2 separate regions of the Homo sapiens genome follow, and region 1 is linked to region 2. The links come from fine-mapping of genetic effects on gene expression. A gene starts in region 2. The other region holds a variant in brackets. All regions are shown on one strand. Distances are from middle to middle. Region 1 has its middle 27 kb from the start of YAE1. Region 2 holds the start of RALA (RAS like proto-oncogene A).

Region 1 (2,914 bases), 31 kb before region 2:
TTTTATTCCCTTTTGTTCTTGAAGGATTTTTTAAAATAGACTTTATTTTTTGGAGAAGTTTAAGTTCACAGCAAAATTGAACAGAAGATTCAGACAGTTCCCAGATACCTCCTGCCCCCACACATGCATAGACTCCCCCATTATCAACGTCCACCACCGGATTGGTACATATGTTACAATTACCAAACTTACATTGATACGTTATTATCTCCGACAGTCCACAGTTTACATTAGCATTCACTTGGTGTTGTACATTCTATAGGTTTTGACAAATGTATAATGACATGTATCTACCATTATAGTATCACACAGAGTATTTCCACTGCCCTAAAAAATGCTCTGTGTTCTACCTATTCATCCCTCTCTCCCTACCTAATTCCTGGCAACCACTGATCTTTTTACACTTATGTATTTTTGCCTTTTCCGGAATGTCACATACTGTAGTTGGAATCATACATTATGTAGCCTTTTCAGATTAGCTTCTTTCACTTGGCAATATGCATTTAAGTTTTCTCCATATCTTTATATGGCTTGATAGCTCATTTCTTTTTAGCACTGAATATTTCATAGTTGATATTTCACAGTCATTTTATCCATTCACCTACTAAAGGACTTCTTGGTTTCTTCCAGTTTTCAGCAATTATGAGTAAAGCTGCAATAAACATCTTTGTGCATGTTTTTGCATGAACATAGTTTTCAACTCCTTTGGGTAAATATCAAAAAGTACAATTGCTGGATCATATGGTAAGAGTATGTTTAGTCCTTAAAGAAACCACCAAACTATCTTCCAGAGTTGCTCTACCATTTTGCATTCTTACAAGCAATAAATGAAAGTTCCTGTGGCTTCATATCCTCATCAGTATTTAGTGTCATCTATTTGTAGTAGTAATTCACTGTTTTAATTGGCATTTCCTTAGGGATATTTTTGCTATATGTAAAATGTGAGATACAGATGCTCCTCAACTTACCATGGCGTTATAAACCCATGATAAATTTATCTGTGATGGATTTAACCCATGGCAAACCCATTACAAATCAAAAATATCACAAGTCAAAAATGCACATACTACCACCCAATAAAGCCGTAGTAAAGTCAAAAAATCACAAGTTGAAGCATCATATGTAGGCAACCATATGTAATTTTACTAGATATGAAATAGATACAGAATTCTAAGTTTTATCCTTTTAGTGCTTTAAACATATGATTCATTACCTTGTGGCTTCTAGTAAGAAGTCAGCTGTTTATGTGTCATTGTTATCCTGTCTACAATGTGCTGCTTTTTCTGGCTCTTTTAAATACTTTTTTACTTTTGTTTTCAGTAGTTTCATTACAACGTGCCTAGATGTAGTTCTCTTTGCACTTATCCTGCTTAGAGCTTGCCAAAATCATATATTTCACCAAATTC[G/A]GAAACACTTTGGCCATTATTTCTTTAAATTTTTGGTCATTCTCTCTCTACTGGGACTCCAGTTACACATATTTAAACCTCTTAATGCTGTTTAACAAGTCACTGGGACTCTGCTCATTTTCTCCCAGGCTTTCTTCTCTGTTTTTTTCAGATTGGATAATTTCTATTGATCTATTTTCAAGGGTACTAGTTCTTTCTCCTTTTATCTCCAATCTACAGTTAAGCCTATCTAGTGAATTTTTAAATATCAGATACTTTAATATCTAGCTCTATAATTTCCATTTGGTTATTTCTTTTTTTTTTTTTTTTTTTTTTTTTGAGACAGAGTCTCGCTTTGTCACCCAGGCTGCAGTGCAGTGGCACAATCTTGGCTCACTGCCACCTCTAAGTCCTGGGTTCGAGTTATTCATGTGCCTCAGCCTTCCGAGTAGCTGGAATTGCAGGTGCCTGCCACCATGCCCAGCTAATTGTTGTATTTTTAGTAGAGATGGGGTTTTACCATGTAGGCCAGTGCCACCACGCCCAGCTAATTTTTGTATTTTTAGTAGAGATGGAGTTTCACCATGTAGGGCAGTCTGGTCTTGAACTCCTGGCCTCAAGTGATCCGCCTGCCCTGGCCTCTCAAGGTGCTGGGTTTACAGGCATGAGCCACTGTGCCTGGCCTTTTATGGGTGCAAGAAATCCTCCTGCCTCAGCCCCCAAGTAGCTGGGACTACAGTCACGCACCACCATGGCCAGCTAATTTTTTGTATCTAAAGAGACAGGGTTTTGCCACATTGCCCAGTCTGGTCTCAAACTTCTGAGCTTAAGCAATCTGCCCACCCCAGCCGCCCAAAATACTGGAAATTACAGGCATGAGCCACCGCATCCAGCCTGGTTATTTCTTTACGGTTTGTTTCTCTGCTGAGATTTCCTATATGTTCATTCATTTAAATTATGTTTTCTTTTACATCCTTAGGTATAGTTACGATAACTGCCTTAAAATCTTTGCTAATTACAATATATGAAGCATTCTGTGGTTGGTCTCTAGTGATTGTCTTTTCCTTAGAGTGTTGGTTGATCACATTTTCCTGTTTCTTCTTATGTCTAGTAATTTGGGGTTGTATCCTGGACATGGTCAGTGAATGATAAATTGGAGAAACTCTGAACTCTGTTATGTTCTTCTCAAGAGTATTAATTTTTGTTGTAGTAGACAGATAACTTTTCAGAACTCAAACTCCAAACTCTACCCCCTCTATGTTGGGCAGTAGCTGAAATCTTTGTTCCATTCTTTTAGCCATGTATGGGCTTCTCAGGTTCTGCCCTGCACAGGGATAGTGCAGGAATCAGCCAGATTTCCAAGTAGATTTTATATTCACAAACTGGGGCTCCTCATCTGTGGCTTTCTCCTTTCTAGAATCTTCTCCCTCACATTCCAGCTGTGGTTGCTCCAAACTCTGACTCTTAATACATAACCTGTATGATTATGAGTCTGTGAGTATTAGCTACCCGGTGCAAGCCTTGCTGGA
Region 2 (2,914 bases):
ATATAGCAACCACCATTAGACAGCACCACTCTTACTTCACTCATCAACTCCAAAACTGAACTCATTTTTTTTCTGCAAAAATGTCCCCTCCCAGGACTCATCCTAACTCTTCCTTATCTTATTTAGTAAAATACACCCTTATCCTGCCCCTCCCTCAAAGCAAAACAAGGCATCATCATTGCCTCTTCCATTCTCCTATCTGGCAGCTGCCCCTAGCAACCAATTACCAGTTGATATGGCCTCTTGAATATTTTAGGAATCCATCTCCTTTGGATGCTCACTACCATTCACACAGGGTCCTTAAGTTTTCTCTTACTGGCTTCTGCAATGGCCCCCTTGTGGGCTCTCTGCTTATCCTTCTCTGCCCCCCCACCTCCACCCCCCCAAGTTATCTGTTCTCTACCAACAGAAGAATAGCTTAAATTGTAATCTGTCCACTCATTGCCTCACCAAGGCATAGACGATTCGTGATTTGGCTCCTGTTTTCTTCTCCAGCCTCATCTTCTTCAGCAACCTAAGTTTGAACTTCAAGACCTGTAATTATTACTCATTCTTCTCAACAAATTATTTGTCCCCGTGCTGCATCTCCTTTCTGTTCGGATCCGGATTTGCCATCCCACCCCTATTTTTGTAGTAGAAAATGCCTATTTATCTTTAAAACTCTAACCTACGTTAGTAAAGCTATCCATTCTTCACGCTGTACATCTTGATAAACCATACTTCCAATAGCAATGATTTGCTTTCATGTATGTCTGCCCACTAGACTGGACATTCCTTGAATGGCTCATACCAGGAATATAGTTGGTACTCAATTTGTGGGGAGCAAAGAGAGATAAGCGAATAAATGTCAAGACATAAGAATCTGTAGCTGCTAACTTAAATTTACGGATTTAGTGAAACTACTTCTCACAAGCTACCAAATCACAGTGCCATGGGGCCGCAAGATGATCTCAGTGCCACACCGACACCTGCAGAGTCGCAGGGGGGTCCGACACCCCTCAGAAAGAACTCGCAGACCGTCCGAGAAAGCGAATTCTCCAGGGGATCAGCAGTTAGATGAGGCCCAGGGCAGCCACGAGACCCTCCAGCCAGGGTAGGCGGCTGACCCGCCTCCTGGGATTTGGCCCGTGACAAGCCACGTCGCCAGCTCCGCTCTGAATACCCCCGGCCACGCCACACGAGCGGCCTCAACCCTGAGACGCCCAGGGAACATGAGCTGACCCTCTAGAAGCAAGATGGCGGCCTCCGCTCTCCCCTCCTTCCCCCAAGAACCCCCTCCTGGTCCCCAAAAGAAAGACAAGGACACCGCGGCAACGACGCCGAGATCCGGGAACCTCCGCGAGGCCCGCGGCCACTCCCGAGCCCCCGGGAGATGACTTCACCTCGCGGAGCTCAGAGAGCCGGGGGTGGGGCCGTCGGAAAGACAGCGCGGACAGCCCTCAGCTTGCAGGGGGCGGAGGCCGGGCAGCCTGCGCCCTCCGAGCCACTGTTCTGCGGCCCAGGCCCATGATCACCCTCCTCTCAGCCCACGGACAGGAAGTCGCTCCCCAGCTGCCCCGCCCCGCTCCCCAGCGCCCCGGAAGTGATCTGTGGCGGCTGCTGCAGAGCCGCCAGGAGGAGGGTGGATCTCCCCAGAGCAAAGCGTCGGAGTCCTCCTCCTCCTTCTCCTCCTCCTCCTCCTCCTCCTCCAGCCGCCCAGGCTCCCCCGCCACCCGTCAGACTCCTCCTTCGACCGCTCCCGGCGCGGGGCCTTCCAGGCGACAAGGACCGAGTACCCTCCGGCCGGAGCCACGCAGCCGCGGCTTCCGGAGCCCTCGGGGCGGCGGACTGGCTCGCGGTGCAGGTGAGCGATGCCCGCTCGGGCCGCCCGGGGAGGGACTGGGGCCACCCGGGCGGCGGCGGGGGTGTGTCCGGGCGGCGGCGGGCCGAGGCCCTGACGCGGGTTCGGGCTGCCGAGATTGCACATCCCACGTTCTGCCCGGGGACGAGCTGCGAGATGAGCCCGGCTGGAATCCGGGGCACCGCGTTCGCCGCTGTGGGGCGAGTGAGCCCCCGAGAGTGAGCGGCTGCGGAGAGGTCCCCTGCGCCCGGCAGCCGGTCTCAGTTGGCCTCGTCCGAAGGTCACCCCGCACCTTTCGTCCACGGCGCCCAAGTTCCCGCCCGGGCGGTGCCCGCGACCTGGGGCAACCCGCTGCCGCCGCAGTCCCCGCGCCTCACTCCACCCCTCTCCCCTCCTTCCCTTTCTTTCCACTCCTTGCCTGTGCTAGAGCCGCTGCTTTTTAAGCATCTCCGCCAGGGTTTTTTGTTTGTTTGTTTTGTTTGTTTGTGTTTTTTTTTTTTTTTGCCAGTTAAAGGAATGGTTTTTCAGACTTAAAGTCATTAGACTCTCCGCACTGAACTGAATACCTGGCCTTGGGCGCTTGCACAGCTTTAGCCCATTTTCAGGTAATCTAGCTTCTAATATGAGGAAGAGAATACATTTTGGGAGAGAGGTGTTTCCTCTGTGGTTCGTTTCTGAAAGATTTCCAGAAGTGGAAGATGTGATTGGCATGCTTTAGCCTGGATATATGTGTTTAAGTAGACGGGGGTGACGGCACACAGGGGTGGCAGTGTTGTTTCAGGATTTAGGGAGAATTAGGGAGTTAACTGGCCTGTGCTCGGAAACCTGAATGTCCAGACTTGTAAGAGCTCATCCAAGTGTGGCTGAGGTAGTGTGAGAAGTCCCGTGCCACGCCCTACGTGTCAAGCTGAAAAGCACCTAATTTACAAATTGTGTGGTGTGGGGGGGGAACAACCTTTATAAAACATGTATCATAAGTTAATTCTTTTCCAGAAAGTAAATTGCAACTTTAATCATATTCCAGAAATTGGATAACAGATTTCATTGGTAAACTCTTACAGTATGTTTATTAAT

What was found.
Region 1: its variant is fine-mapped to the expression of RALA in whole blood (TOPMed, PIP above 0.99).

The regions. Positions count from the first base shown.
Region 1 is chr7:39,591,479-39,594,392 of GRCh38, forward strand. It overlaps a transcript of YAE1 not described here. Among named protein-coding and RNA genes, the nearest start is that of YAE1, 27 kb to the left of the region's middle. The variant G/A (reference allele first, on the strand shown) is at 1,407.
Region 2 is chr7:39,621,983-39,624,896 of GRCh38, forward strand. It overlaps RALA (RAS like proto-oncogene A), which reads left to right and starts at 1,590. Exons shown (of 5, transcript NM_005402.4): 1 at 1,590-1,843. It overlaps LOC107986785 (a long non-coding RNA gene), which reads right to left and starts at 1,495. Exons shown (of 2, transcript XR_001745175.2): 1 at 451-1,495. RefSeq lists an enhancer at 1,466-2,313 and silencers at 1,640-2,149, 2,744-2,793.